Homo sapiens: one gene and its partner. The protein of the gene in region 1 interacts with the protein of each later gene in a pairwise test. Each region holds a gene or a part of one and is shown in the gene's direction. Other genes may lie near its edges.

Region 1 (8,013 bases):
GAGCCACTGCATCCAGCCTCTATTGTATATTTTCTATTTAATTAACTTCTATTCTTACTTTTATCTTTTACCTTTGGTCTATAGTTTTCTGTTTCTAACCTTACTTGGTTTTTGTCTTTGTCTAGCTTTCTACCTAGCGCTGACACATCTTTGTTTTTTCCTATGTTCTGAAATAGTTAAAACTACATTAGCATCATCTGTTTCTTGAAGATCTTATAGAATTAGCCTCTTAAAACTATCTGGATTTTCTATAATTTTGTCGAATAGAGTTTTGGTTTCCTTTTCTATTTTATCTATAGTTAGTGATCTATTAAAAATTTCAAACTTTTTATCAATTTTACTAATTAATACTTTCTAGAAAATCATCCAGTTCCTTTCAGATTTTCAAATTTATACAATAAGGTTGCAGTGGTTTTCTCTTATAATTTAAAATATTAGCCAGCACGGTGGTTCACGCCTATAATCCCAGCGCTGTGGGAGGCCAAGGTGTACGGTTCACTTGAGGTCAGGAGTTCGAAACCATCCTGGCCAACATGGTGAAAACCTGTCTCTACTAAAAATACAAAAATTAGCTAGGTGTGGTGGCGCGTGCCTGTAGTCTCAGCTACTTGGGAGGCTGAGGTATGAGAATCGCTTGAACCTGGGAGTGAGCTGAGATTGTGCCATTGCACTGCAGCCTGGGTGACAGAGCGAGATTCTGTTTCAAAAAAAATAAAAAAAAAGAGGCCGGGCTCAGTGGCTCACACCTGTAGTCCCAGCACTTTGGGAGGCTGAGGTGGGCAGATCACCTGAGGTCAGGAGTTTGAGACCAGCCTGGCTAACATGGTGAAACCACCTTTCTACTAAAAATACAAAAAATTAGCCGGGCATGGTAGTGTACACCTGTAATCTCAGCTACTCGGAAGGCTGAGGCAGGAGAATTGCTTGAACCTTGGGAGGCGGAGGTTGCAGTGAGCAGAGATCGCACCACTGCACTCCAGCCTGGGCAACAAGAGAGAAACTCTCTCAAAAAAAAAAAAAAAAATCACCTGTATATCTTGGCTTTCTCTTCCCTAAACTTGCTTATTTCTGGTTTTCTGTATACATTTTGCCAGAGGTCTATTTTACTGAACTTTTCAGAGACAAGGCTTTGGTCTTATTGTTGAAGTTTATTTTTTTGAGGATAAATTTCACCTTTAACCTTATTTCCTTTTAAAATTTTCTCCTGGCCAGGCGCAGTGGCTCATGCCTGTAATCCCAGCACTTTGGGAGGTTGAGATGGGCAGATCGCAAGGTCAGGAGATCGAGACCATCCTGGCTAACAGGTAAAACCCCGTCTCTACTAAAAATACAAAAAATTAGCCGGGCGTGTTGGCGGGTGCCTGTAGTCCCAGCTACTCGGGGGGTGCTGAGGCAGGAGAATGGCGTGAACCCAGGAGGTGGAGCTTTCAGTGAGCCGAGATTGCGCCACTGCACTCCAGCCTGAGTGACAGAGTGAGACTCCGTCTCCAAAAAAAAAAAAATTTTTTTTTCTTCTGAATTAGCTTATTCCTCTTCTAACTTTTTGAAATGAATTTTTAGTTAAAACACTTTAAATCTTTGTTATTTTCTAAATAAATTATCCCCTTGAACTTTCTACTCTAATTCCATCGATCTGTCTTTTCTTTTTAGTTTTATATTATTTAACACCATTTAACATCTGGTAGTACAAGTTCCCTTTGTTATTATTTTTCTAAGTTTTCTTGGTTATTATTGGGCTAGATGATATCTTAAAGTCACTAAGATTCTTTGAGAGTTATTGTGAAAATGCACCCAAATAAATCCATTTAGTCCCTTCTTTTCAAACTCAAGTATTCCTTATTATTCCAGATATAGTCAGTCTTTAAAAAAATGCCTAAAATCATTGCTCGATACTTTATTAAGTGCTTCAAATCAATCTGTATATATGCATATGGTATATATGTAGTGTATGTGTTTTGTGTGCATGTGTCAGTGTGATGTGTGCTTATATATATGCATAGGATGCATATATAATGTGTGGGGTGTGTTTGTATATGTATGTGAGGTGTGTATGTAGTGTGTTTATGTATGTGTATATGTGCATATGATGTGACTGTGTGTGTACATGGGATATGTTGAGGTATGTGTATGTATGTGTGCAGAGTGTATGATTGTTATCGTGTGTGGTATGATAATGTATGTGTGGAGTGTGTGTGCACATGTGTGAGGTGGAAGAACCCCAGGGGGTGCTAGAATGCTCAGGACATGTGAGAAAGCCAGGCTTGGTCCAACTCTCCTGCCTTCTTGGGGAAAGCAGGGCCATGATCATGAGCCTTTCTGGATGTTGCTTTTGGACAGCAGTGTGGGTTAATAGGGCCAGTCTCTCCTGAAGTGCCCTGCCCAAGCTCCCACTCACCTCTCTCCTCCATCTCTTGAGGAAAGGGTGACCGACCTGTCCTTTTAGGAAAAGGAAGCTTCCAGCACGCTACTGAGTAAAGGAGCCTTACTGGTGGTGGTGAAGGTGATACCATCAGAGGGGCCAGCTCAGGATCAGGCTGGCCTTGCAATCTTCCAACTGAATATGTTAGCTGCAGAGTGGGGCAGGAGTCAGGAGGGGACCTACAAAGCAGTAGAATCTTTGTTCCCATTACCGGGTGTAAGTGCCCAGTGTGGGCCTCGGTCTTTTCTCTCCTAGGTCACATTCAGACAGCACACCTTTGCCCAATTTTCTTTCTGGATCTCACCGTCCTGAGTGTTGTACCTGCAGGTTGCTCACAGCCTCTGGAGCCCAAGATAGTCTCCCCTTTGGGAGGAGGCTCTACAGTGGTCCCTGGCGAAGTTGTGAAGAGGTGACTATCATCTCAGGCACATCACCTTCCCTTTTCCCTGTGGGCCTTCCTTTGCTGTTTCCTGAACACCATGCTTTCTAGTTCCTACTGGGAGTGAACACACCTTGCATGGAGCATCTTCAGGCCATGGCTAACTCATGCTCCCATCTTGCTCCTGCAGGTCTGCCACGTCTCTGTGCTCAGTGTCCTCTCTACATCCTGTGGCTTGAGCCTGAGCTTGCCCATATTCCCTGGCTGGATGGAGTGGCTAAGCCCTGATATCGCTCTGCCCAGAAGAGATGAGTGGACTCAAACTTCTCCAGCCAGGAAGAGGATCACGCATGCCAAAGTCCAGGGTGCAGGTAAGTCCATCTGTCACTGGCTTGAGGCTAGGAGAGTGGACCTGCTCTTGTTAAAGGCAGTGTTCACCATGTGTGTGTGTAACCGGGGTTGGAGGGGGAGAGTGGGGTGGGGTGGGGGGGTGCAGTAAAGAGCAGGGCAGGACTTCACGAAGTGCCAGGATTCAAACAATCCTACGGCATTTATGTGATTTATCACCAGTTTGCTGATTCAGGGCTCCTTCTGCAGTTTCTGCTCCTCGCTGGTGGCCACCTGACCCTGTGGCGTTTGCTCCTTCCACCTGCTGTTGGCCATGGGGCAGATGTGGAGGCCAAGGAAGAATAGGACAATGGCGTTTGGGGCAGACAGGCCTGGGTTCAAATTTCAGCTCTGCCTATTCCTAGCTCTGCAAACCTTGGGCATGTCACCTGTCTTCTCTGCCTGAGGTTCAGATTTCTTCCTGGTAAATTGGGGCTAATACTTATTAGACTTACCGTGAAGATTAACTGAGATGATGTGTGTAAATTGCCCAGCTCAGCTCAGCCTCTGGCATCTGGTACTCAACACATAACTCTTCTCTCCACTTTCTGTCTTGCATCTCCCCATCTTGTTTTTGAGTGGATCACTGAACCACAAATATCCACTTGGCGATGAAGTCTGGGGAACAGGGACAAATACCAACACTTCCCATTTTTAGATTTACACGAGACTAACAGCTTTCCTTCCCACAGTGGCAACAGAGATTTGCAGAGCAGATGTCTTGGTGTGAAACTGCTACGAGGAGGTGTCCTGTAAATGTTTGCTGACAAAGCAGCAAAGCAGGGTTTGACCTTCCAGCTCTGCCTCCCCGCACCAGGCTGGGGGATTCACCCACCCCACTCCGTTTCCTGTGCGTTCCTCTTTCTCAGAGGCTGTGGGCCTGTCCTGCTGTCCGATGGCATCAGGCTGTGGGACGGGGGGCCATCAGGTTGGTTGGAGCAAGCTGCTCCCATCCGGACCTGTGTCAGGCAGCACTTGTTCAAGAGGAGGCTCAAGAGAGTGATCCAGGATGCAGGGTTTGGGAAGAGGATGCAGCATGGTGGGGGGCGACCTGTCCAAGCGCAGAGAACACTTTTCCAAACCTCACTGCCCTGGGCCATCGGGTGCTCCTTTGCCTTTGCTTGGATCTAATGATTATAGGCCTGAGCTTCAAAGCAGGTTATAAACCCGACTAATTGCTGGTCTAGGAGAGCTGGACGAGGAGGCCAAGCCTGCCCAGAGTGGGCACCCCGGACTGGGCCTTCTCGTGGGACTGGCATTTCCAACCGGGAGCGCGGTGCTGGGGCCGGGATACCCGGGGTGGCCGCACCGTCCTGCTGGCTCCTTGGGTGGCTGCCGTCGCTGCTCAGCGCGGGTCGGCGGCGCCGCCTCCCCCACCCCGGCCCAGCTCTGCTCCGGCAGGTGGAACTCTCCCCATTCAAACCCGCGCGGGCCAATCAGGGCCGGGCGCGCCCTGGCCGTTCCAACGCTTGGGGCAGCCCTACCTCCCGCTCGCGCTCCTCCCGCCCTGGAGACTCCGGTTACTGGGGAGCAACACAGCCGCCTCGGGTTGCAGACGCTCCTGTCCGGGTCGCAGTGGGACGCCATGGAGCGCTCCCTGCACCGCGTCTCCCTCGGGAGCCGGCGTGCCCACCCGGACTTGTCCTTCTACCTCACCACCTTTGGTAAGTGCCCGCTGGGGCTGGCGGCAGGGGCTGCTTCACCCTGCTCCCAGCGCCCAGAAACGCAGCCCCTCGTGGTGACAGGGGAGGCTGGGAGCAGGTGCTCTTTCTATCTAGGGGCACCTTCTCTGGCCCCTTTCTCCTGTGACTGCCCAGGAGGGGCTCAGGGCACAGGCTCAGTCCAAGCAAGCTGCTGGACACCACCTGCTGCCCGGCCATGAGTGCCAACTGCGGTTGGTTCTGCCTCACTTGGCTGGAATAATCACGCTCTGGTTAATCTTTCAGAGACCTGGGTTGTCACCACGGAGTTTCTCATTAGCAAGCAGCTCAGGTTAAATCAAGGTCTTGTTATAGCAACTGGAGATCTCATTCACCCACTTTCCTTTGGCTCAGGGAGCGGACAGGTGCTGGGCCCTTTGGCCCTGCTGCCTTGTGGGGAGGCTGCAATTTGACTTTGTTGGGTATCTGAGCCACAGTGGAGATGGGAGAATTCTCTCCTCCAAGAAAGAACAATCCCTTAGGAGGGTCCCAGGGCTGCCTCAGGGTTTGAGGTGGAAAGAAGTGAACAGTAGGCTTCACTCCCAAGCCCCTAAGTAGCAGACTGAGTTCCCCCAAATAACAGCTGGGCGGCAGCTGCCCAAAGGTCTGGGCAAACCTGGCCTTCCTGGTAGCCATAGTAAAGGTAACAACCCTACCCTTGAGGGTAACCCTTCATTTCCTCACTGGTCCTGCAACTCTCTGTGGAGAGGGGTTATTTTTCCTCTGTGAAGACTTGAAACCAAGAGATCTTCCATGAGCCAGTGGCAGAGTTCGTAGCTGAGCTCAAGCTTTCCAGAGATGACCTGTCCAGCGCATTTTTGTTTGAACTTGCATACAATTTCCTTCTAAAGGTTGGGGCTGTTACTGAAACATTACTGGACATTGCCCAGCTTTCAAAGACAGAGTGCCCAAGGAGTTTGGTCCCTCCCTGGGGTTCCTGGCTCTTCTGTTTTCAGGCTTACTCCTGCTCAACATATTTGGTTTTCCACAACCTGCTTTTTTTCCTTAGGGGTAGAGGGAATGATGGAAGAGCAGTGGCTTGGCCTCTGAAATTGCCTGACGTCTGGCAGCAGGAATTCACTGGTCTAGTTGGTGGACGATAAAGGGCAATTAACTAGCCATCATTTGTTGAGAACTTACCATTGCCATTCCTTATGCCAAGTGTTTTACCTGCATTATCTCACTTAATGCCCCAGCGTAGGAGGCAATTCCTGCTAACCCCATTGGGATGCAGGGCTCTGTGAGACAAGGGTGGTTTCCAGGATGATCTGTATTGGCTGGGGTAGGAGTGATCAGGAAAGGGTGTCAGGGAGCTGTGAGGCCCTCTTACCTTAGCTGTGTCCTGATTAAAAAGTAAAAATATGTTTGCTTTTTTCCTCCTTATTATCATGGTTACATGTGTTTACTGCTGAAAACTTAGTGAAAAGAAGAAAGTGAAAATCACTTGTAATCTGACTTCCCAGGGAGACCACTGTTAACTTTCTGATTTATATCCTCCCAGGCTTATTTCCACACCTATTTCTGTGTGTGTGTGTGTGTGTGTGTGTGTGTGTGTGTGTGTGTGCCTGTGTGTATTTAGGGGTCAAATTTCAACACAATTGAGATCAAGTTTGTATGGACAATTTTGTAACCCATATGTTTTCCTTAGTGGCCTGATGTGAATATTTCCTTGCATTGGTCCATGTTCTTCTATTAGATTAATCTGCCTGCCAGATCTGGGAAGCTGAGGAGGGTTCAGGCCCAGCAGGGAGTGGATCTTCCTGCCCAGCCATGGCCTCAGGGCTGAGTCTGATGGGTATCAGGGAAGGCTGCTGCTTGAACAAGTGACTGTGACCTGAGTGTGCAGGAGGCAGACAGGAGCCTGGGTGGGGTGGGAAGCCACCTGCTCTTATTCGTGCAGGCTCCTCTCACATCTCTCTAAGGATGCTTATGAGAGCATTTGAGAAATTCTCTCCTGTTTCCTGCACTGGCTCTGTTTCCCTGGGTGCCATTTGTCGTGGTGCCCCTCTTTCAGGCTGCTGATTTTCTTTATCCACTGTGATCTTCACTGATCTGCTTATGAGCAAAGATTCCTATCAGTGGTTTCCAAACCCAGCCAAATATCAGAAGCATGTGGGGAGCCTGTTAAAAATACACAGATTCCTAGAATCTTCTTCTGGAGACTCTAGTTTAATAGGTCTGGGGTGGAGCCTGAGAATATGAACACTTAAGAAGCCATAGAGCGTTCAGACTGTCATCCAGGTTTGGAAGCTATGGATTCAGAGTCAGTTTTGGTAGCAATTGGGACCACTTTTACTGTGAAGGTTTTGGCTAAGTTTTTCTCAGTTCACTGGCCTTTCCTTAGCAAAGTAGGTAGCCCCTGGCCTTCTACTGTGAGCTTTGCCTTGGTAGAACCAGATGAAGATGTTGCTTAGCTGGTAGTTTCCTGAGCACAGACATGTAAAGGGAGCATAATCATCTATGGAAATATAAAGAGACAAAACTGTTTTGATGAGAATTCCCTTCGGGGAGAGTACTGCATGATATATGTATTTGTGTGTACACATGAACACAACCCCTTGTCCCCCAAAAGGAGTATGTTCAAGTGACATTAATTGAAGGACACTGCGTTCTGAGGAGGTGGCCTTACTTCAGGGGAAGGGAGTAGGCAAGCTGAGGCTAGGACCCAACTACTCTAGAGGGATTTTTTTTTCTTTATTGTGAAAAATGATGTAATTTGAAGTCATTGTAGGTATACATAATATTTTTCTCCAGGATTGTATATTTTATTTTGATTAGGATATTTGCTGATTTTTCTTGTAACAGCTTTATTGAAATATAATTCAGATATATACAATTCACTCATTTAAACCATACAATTCAATGGTTTTTAGTATATTCACAGAGATGTGTAACTATTATCACAATTTCAGAACATTTTCATTCCCTCAAAAAGAGACATTATGCTCTTTAGCTTGTACCGTCCTCCCTTGTCCCGAGCCCAAAGCAATTGCTAATCTATTCTCTCCCTCTGTAGATTTGCCTGTTCTGGACATTTCATATAAATGGAATCGTATTTTTTTTTTTATGACTGACTTCTTTCACTTAGCATAATGTTTTCAAGTTTAATCCATGTTGTAGCAGATATC
Region 2 (7,563 bases), on another chromosome or scaffold:
CAAATGACAGCCCCAACTCATGATAAATGTGAAGCTAGTTATCCATTTATACATTTTCACTGAAATAACTTTCATCTTTGTAAACTTGGTATAAATAGTTCATTCAAGTAGAGAGAAAAATTTTTTTTCTAGAAACTGCTTAAATCTTTGAACTTATTCTGAGTTATATATATGGTCTGATGCAACTGATAAATTTTAAAAGACATACAGCTTTCATTGAATCTGAGAGTTAGAATGGCAAGATCACACAACGAGGTTGTGGCAAGTGCAAGTAGATCTAGGAGTGGTTGTCACTGAACTCCCAGACCAGTCAGTTTTCTTTATAGCACCGCTATCATAATATTTTTGGTACTAAGAAGAAATGAAATGGAATATCCTGGAGAAAAGAACAGGATGCACAGCAGTAGGTGTATGTCTTATAGTTTGCCTCATCATGTTAAGAAAAAACAATTGTGTGATTTTATTTTTTCCTGAGAAACTAGGGGACTGAAATTAATAAGTAGAGCAAAACAAAAAGTGTTTTAAAATCATAAAACAAATCTGTTTTGTTCCATTTGTTGTAAAGATTCTCTTCAAATATAATGTCATGAAAAAAAAACTCAAGCTCTTTCTTGTTATTTATTGACAGAGGATATTTTGTTTCCAAAAGTGACTGAGAATGGTATATTGTTAGATTATTTAAAGATACTTATTTTTCTTTCTGAGCAGAGTAGCCAAATAACCCCTTAGTTATATTTGGAAATAAGTGGGAACAGAGACCAAAGTGACCTCAGTAGGCTTTAAAAAATCTAAAGTATTTCATATATTAAGGAAATATAACCCATAATGATAAATGCCATTCAAAATCAAAATGAGTAAATTCAAAAGTCTATTTATAAATGCTCTTTTTAAAAGGGGCAATGAGACTTTGATAAAGATGTTTTATTAGACATTTTCTAGTATGAAATAAAAGTCAGTAGCAATAGAGCAGTTAATCCATTCTGAATCCTAATGGATTTTTTTTTCCTGTGTGGGAGAATGCAATGAATTGAAAGCTCATGCTGAAGAGTAAAATTCTGAGAACTGAAAAAAGTTTTCCCTCACAAAAAGAAATGAACTTCACAAAAAGAAATTTTCACGCTGGGTGCGGTGGCTCATGCCTGTGATCTCAGCACTTTGGGAGGCCGAGGCGGGTGGATCACGAGGTCAGGAGATCAAGACCATCCTGGCCAACATGGTGAAACCCCGTCTCAACTAAAAATACAAAAATTAGCTGGGTGTGGTGGCACATGCCTGTAATCCCAGCTACTTGGGAGGCTGAGGCAGGAGAATCACTTGAACCAGGGCGTCGGAGGTTGCAGTCAGCCGAGATCACGCCACTGCACTCCAGCCTGGGCACCAGAGCGAGACTCTGTCTCAAAAAAAATAAAAAAAGAAAGAAGTTTTCACATTCCCTTACAAAGAAGACAGGGGCCTTGTCCTACCAGGGATTTATACTTGGTATTAATTGACTGTAATGACAACTGTATGGTATTACACAGGAACAGATAGTCGCTCAGTGGGATAGAAACAATCAAGAAGTGTGATATGTAAGGTTACTTAATAATATTTCTGTTCATTTAGAAAAGCATGGCATAATTGACTCTTGATATGGTTTGGACGTTTATCCCCTCCAAATCTCATGTTGAAATGTAATCCACAGTGTTGGAGGTGGGGCCTAGTGGAGGTGTTTGGGTCACTGGGGCAGATCACTCATGAATGGCCTGTTGCTGTCCTCATGACAATGAGTGAGTATTCACTCTGAGTTCATGTGCGATCTGATTGTTTAAAAGTGTGGCACCCTGTCCCTCACTCTCTCTTGTTCCCCCCTTGCTGTGTTATGTGCCTCCTTCTGCCTGCTTCCGCTTCACCTTCTGCCTTGAATAAAAGCTTCCTGAGGCCTCACCAGAAACTGAGCAGATGCTGGCACCATGTTTCTTGTACACTCTGCAGAACCGTAAGCTGATTAAACCTCTTTCCTTTATAAATTACCCAGTGTCAGGTATTTCTTTACAGCAACGCAAGAATGGACTAACACAACTCTCCATCCAGAAAAAAATAGAGATCCCCTGCCTCCCACCATATAAAATTCAGTTAAAGGTTTACATATTAAAAAACATACCCTCTAAAATATTAAAAGGAAATTTTGATAAATATTTTAATACCTCAGGATAGGGAAGCTTTCTTAAGAGAATAAACCCTGAACTGATAAAGAAAATAGATAATTATTTCCTTATAAAAACATCAACATCTACAACAAAATCATTGTATAGCTAGAGACTATGTAAAGAAATTGATAGGCTAAGATAAAACATTTGTAACATATAACAAAAAGGTTTAATATTCTATATTCATCAGTACATATTAAATGGGTATACTATATGTCAGGCACTGGTCTTTGTTGTGAGGATATTGAGCTGAACAAAATCGATTAACTTTCCTGACTTCTGTGCCCTTTAAACATTAACAGATTAAACAGTTCTTAAAATTGATTTTAAAAAAGAGATAACCCAATAGAAAAATGGCAAATCTCAGAAGAAGAAATGAATATGACTAAAGGTAAAGATATGAAAATGCAAACAAAATATGGATCTATCATTTCTTTTACATAGATTGGCAGAAATGAAAGAAATGATAACATCTAGTGTAGGCCAAAGTGTAAGGCTTTAGGCTCCCACATTGTTGGTGGAAGTGTGAATTGCTACAACTGATTTAAATATGCTGATACTTTTTAGAAGTCTATCAAAAGTAAACAAAAGCCTTGGTACTTTAGGTTATATAAACAAGTATAACTTGTAACATATTTGTAAAAATTGAACTGGGCAGAACTTGGATGACCATTTGTTAGAAAATGGCAGAATAAATTATGGCACATTCTTAAGAATGGGCTAGATCTGCAGGTATGACGCAGGGAGGTATCTGTTAGGTGCAAAAGCGTGTTTTAGGATAACATATACAACATGATTGATCTCATTTTTTAAAATGGCAAACAACAATAAATGACACACCTACAAAGGAAAAATTCTGTCTATGTGTCTGTATGTGATAGGTATGGAGTAAGACATGCAAACTCTTTTGTGTATACTTCTGTATTTAATTTGTTTGTTTCAATGAGTGTTATTACTTCTGTAATTAAAAGAACAACAGAACTGCTAACCAGACTGGGTCAATTAGTGGATATACCTAGTGATATTTGGAAATATTGGGTCCCAGAGAGCCATGCCTTCATTATGTTTATGTAATGCATAAGGTATTATGCATTAGGTAATTTTAGTTCATGATTATGATTGTTCAACCAACATAAACAAAAATCTTTTTTATTACCCCTTCCCCCGGCCCTACATACTTGATTATGCCTTTTCGGTACAACAATCTAATGATAAATGAAAGCTAGGTATCAGGGCATGTATTAAAAAAATCAATAATCAATGATTAAAAATATGTGAAAATTGTTTAAAGGTATGGTAATATCCATAGGTACTTGGTATAGTGAAATGACTACTTGAAGAAAAGTCCGTAGCACAGGATTCCAGATCTTATTCACAGACTAAGTACCTGAATGACATTTGCTAAGTTGTGTATCCTGCTAAGGTCTTGATTTTGTCCCAAAGATTTTTTCCAGCTCTAGAATAGATTGAACCTTATAATTTAAGAGATATCCTGGACATTTTATATATTATCCTTAAATTTGAGGAACGCATTTTTAACAAAGGACTTTTATAGTCATGATCTCATTTGATCTTACAATAACCTTGTAAAGTGGGTGGATAGGTAGAGAAGTTAAATCAGCGTTCTTGGACTCTTTATGGGCTTCCTTTCTACTATTCATTATTTAGCCTTTGCTCTGCTTTTCCTGTTTACATACTTTCCCTCCTTCATCCACTCACTTGGTTTCTTCTCCAACCTCCCTACTCTCTTCCACATCCAGTTTACCACCCCAACCAACCAGTTCATATTTGCCAACTTTCATGTGGGTAATAATTTTAGTATGTGAACATGTGCATATGTGTATGTATGTGTTTTTGTTTTTAGGTGTTAATTAGGCATAATGTACAGAAAAATGCTCAAAAAATTTGTTGAGTTGTATAAAAAGTGTACAACTCAACAAATTTTCATAAAGTGAGCATCCCATGTAACCAACATTCAGATCAAGGAATATCATATTACTAGCACCGCAGAAGTCTCCTTTCCCCCACTTGGTCCCTACCTCCTTATGAAGGTAACTGCTATCATTATTTTAAATATCATGGATCGTTTGGCCTGCTTTTGAGCTTCAAGTAAATGGAATCATATAGTATTTACTTTTCATATGTGGCCTGTTCATCTCAATATTATTTTCTGAGATTCATTTATGTTATGGCATGTAGCAATAGTTCGTTCATTTTCACTGCATTCTATTGGTGAATATATTATAACTTATTATGTTGATGGACATTTGGGTTGTTTCTGCCTATTATGGATAGTGCCATTATGAACAATGTGTCTTTTGGGGAGCATATATATGGATTTCTGTTGGGTATATGCTTAGGAGTAGAATTGCTGAGTTATAAGGTGTTCAGATATTTAGCTTTTGTAGATATTGCCAATCTGTTTTCCAAACTGGTCGCACCAATTTACATTCCTTACAGCAGTGTATGAGATTTCTAGTTCTTTCACATTCTTACCAGCACTTAGTGTTGCCTACCTTTTTTCTTATTTTTTAGGTCTCTAAAAAAAATTTTAGTTTTGTAAGTTGTAAACTGACAAATTATAGTTGTATATATTCATAGGGTACAAAATGATGTTATGATTTACGAATTCAATGGAATAATTAAATCAAGCTAATTACCATATCCATCACCTCAAATACTTAACATTTTTTTGTTGTACACTTGCAATTTACTCTCAGATTTTGAAAGTACATTATTATTAATATCTTCACCATGATGTCAAGATATCTCAAATAAAAAAGATAATTTCCTGTCTAGTTGAGGCTTTGTACCTTTTGACCATTATCTCCCCGTTCCCCACTCCCCTCAGCCTCTGGTTACCACCATTCTGCTTTTTGCCTCTTTGAACTCAATTGTTTTAGATTCCACGTATAAATGAGAATAGGCATTATTTGTTTTTCTGTTCCTGGCTTATTTCACTTGGTATAATGTTCTCCACTTCCATCCATGTCGTTGCAAATGACAACATTTCTTTCTTTTTTTAAAGGCTGAATAGTATTATATTGTATATGTATACCACATTTTCTTTATTCATTTATCTGTTGATGGACTTTTAGGTTGATTCCATAACTTAGCTCTTGTAAATAGTAAATGACATGGGAGTGCAGACATCTCTTTGACATCTTGACTTGAAATGTTTTGGGCAAATACCCAAAAGTGGGATCAGTAGATCCACCTGTCTTTCATTTTAGTTATTCTGACAGCCATGTTGTGATATTGACTTGTCGAGTTCTTTTACATTGCACTGATAATTAATGAGGTTTAACATCTTTGTATATGTTATAGGACATTTGAAGATCTTTTTTTTTATGATATACCTGTTTAAATTTTTTTTTCATTTTGTAATTGGAATGTCTTTTTCTTATTGATTTTTTTTGTTTTGTTTGGAAATGATAGATATATCTTATCCTACTCAGTGGCTTGCCTTGTTTCTGTGTGTTTTTAAGTTAAAAAAGATTTTAAATTTGGACTAACTTAATTTGGAGCATGACTCACAACAGTGTCAAAAGAAGTAGAAAGATTAACGTAAGAATAAAAAGCTATTTCAGTTTGGCCAGGAGGAAGACATGACTAGCAATTAGTGGGATTAAATTTCTTGAGGTTGAGAAGTTGGTTAAAAAAAGTAGAAAAAGTGCTGGGTGTGGTGGCTCATGCCTGTAATCCCAGCACTTTGGGAGGCTGAGGTGGGTGCATTACCTGAGGTCAGGAGTTCAAGACTAGCCTGACTAACATGGTGAAACCTCATCTCTACTAAAAATATAAAAATAAGCTGGGTGTGGTGGCGCATGCCTGTAACCCCAGCTACTTGGGAGACTGAGGCAGGAGAATCGCTTGAACCCGGGAGGCGGAGGTTGCATTAAGCTGAGATCATGCCATTGCACTCCAGCCTGGACTATACGGTGAGACTCCGTCTCAAAAAAAAAAAAAAAAGTAGAAAAAGTGAAAGATCGATTAAGCACTTGCTTATTGACTACCTAGTGTGGGTCACACACTGTGCTACACATCCGGGGTACATGCATACACAAACCCCACTTCTGTCCCTCAAGCTCCTGCTGTTGTATGCTCAGGAATTATGAATGTGGCTGAGAAGGTTAGCCATCAAAAATAAAAGAGAAATAGGATAATAGTTTCTCAGGTGGTTGGGCAGCAGAGAGTATGAAGAGAAATCTGGAAGAAAAGTCATGATTAGAAGGGAAAACATGACCCAAGGTTGGGCAAAAACAAACAAACAAGCAAAACAAACAAAAAACAACTCTGAGATCAGAAATACAGTTTAAAGAAAAAGATGACGTCAGAAAAATCTGATTTAAATAGGAAGAGAGGTGAGAGACAAAAGATTCGGAGTTTATAAAGTGACAGACTTGAAAGAGAAGAGTAAGAGAAAATGAGAATATGACTATGAATTTTAAGGACTTTAGGAGGACTGGCAGGGAGCCTACGTTCCTAAAAAGATGTTGAAATAATTATGTAGAAAGAAATTAGAAATATGTTACACAATAAAAGTTGCCTTATATTCCTTCTTCAAAAGAGATGACTTTCCTTTATTTTTAAGTTTGTTGTATATTCATTTAGCTTTTCATATGCATATACCAAAGCAGATAGGATCAGATTATATATAGTGTTTTGTACGTTTTTCTTCCACTTTGTTATATTTATGGTATCTATTTCTGTCTGGAACTATTGATAGTATTTTGTTTTGTGGCTATTCCACGCTTCAGTCAATTTTATTCAAATTAGTTCTAGTTTTTCTCTGATTATAAAATGGCAAATTAGTTCTAATTTTTCTCTGATTATAAAGCATAAATATACTTATGTTTATAAGTATATAAAATGCTTATAAATGCTTTCTCTGAAAAAACACTTCAGGTTTATTAAATATAATTCAACATGTTTAAATAAAATTTAACTTGTAAATACTTTTATCTTTCTTTGAGACAGGGTCTTACTCTGTCGCTCAGGCTGGAAGGCAGTGGTGCAATCATGGCTTACTGCAGTCTTGACCTCCCAGGCTCAAGTGATCCTCCCACTTCAGCCTCCCCGCTCAGTCTGCCAAGTAGCTGCAGCTACAGGCACACACCACTACACCTGGCCAATTTTTAAATTTTTTGTAGAAATGGGGTTTCCCCATGATGCCCAGGCTGGTCTCGAACTCCTTGGTTCAAGTGACCTGCCCACCTCATCCTCTCAAAGTGCTGGGATTAGGGGTGTAAGCCACTGCACCTGGCCTGTAAATGCTTTTTAATCCGTTATATTTCTGCTTCTACATGGTGAATCCCTAAAAGTAAAGTGGCTGAAAAAAAAAAAGAGATCACATCTTATATAAGCATTTATTAAA

What was found.
Region 2: the proteins of RGS3 (region 1) and DEPDC1B interact in a two-hybrid assay, tested with the Homo sapiens proteins (one study listed by BioGRID).

The regions. Positions count from the first base shown.
Region 1 is NC_000009.12:113,459,033-113,467,045, forward strand, and holds the start of RGS3 (regulator of G-protein signaling 3), read left to right. Parts: upstream 1-4,694; 5' UTR 4,695-4,770; coding exon 4,771-4,849; intron 4,850-8,013. UniProt on the Homo sapiens protein: Down-regulates signaling from heterotrimeric G-proteins by increasing the GTPase activity of the alpha subunits, thereby driving them into their inactive GDP-bound form.
Region 2 is NC_000005.10:60,689,651-60,697,213, reverse strand, and holds part of DEPDC1B (DEP domain-containing protein 1B), read left to right. Parts: intron 1-7,563.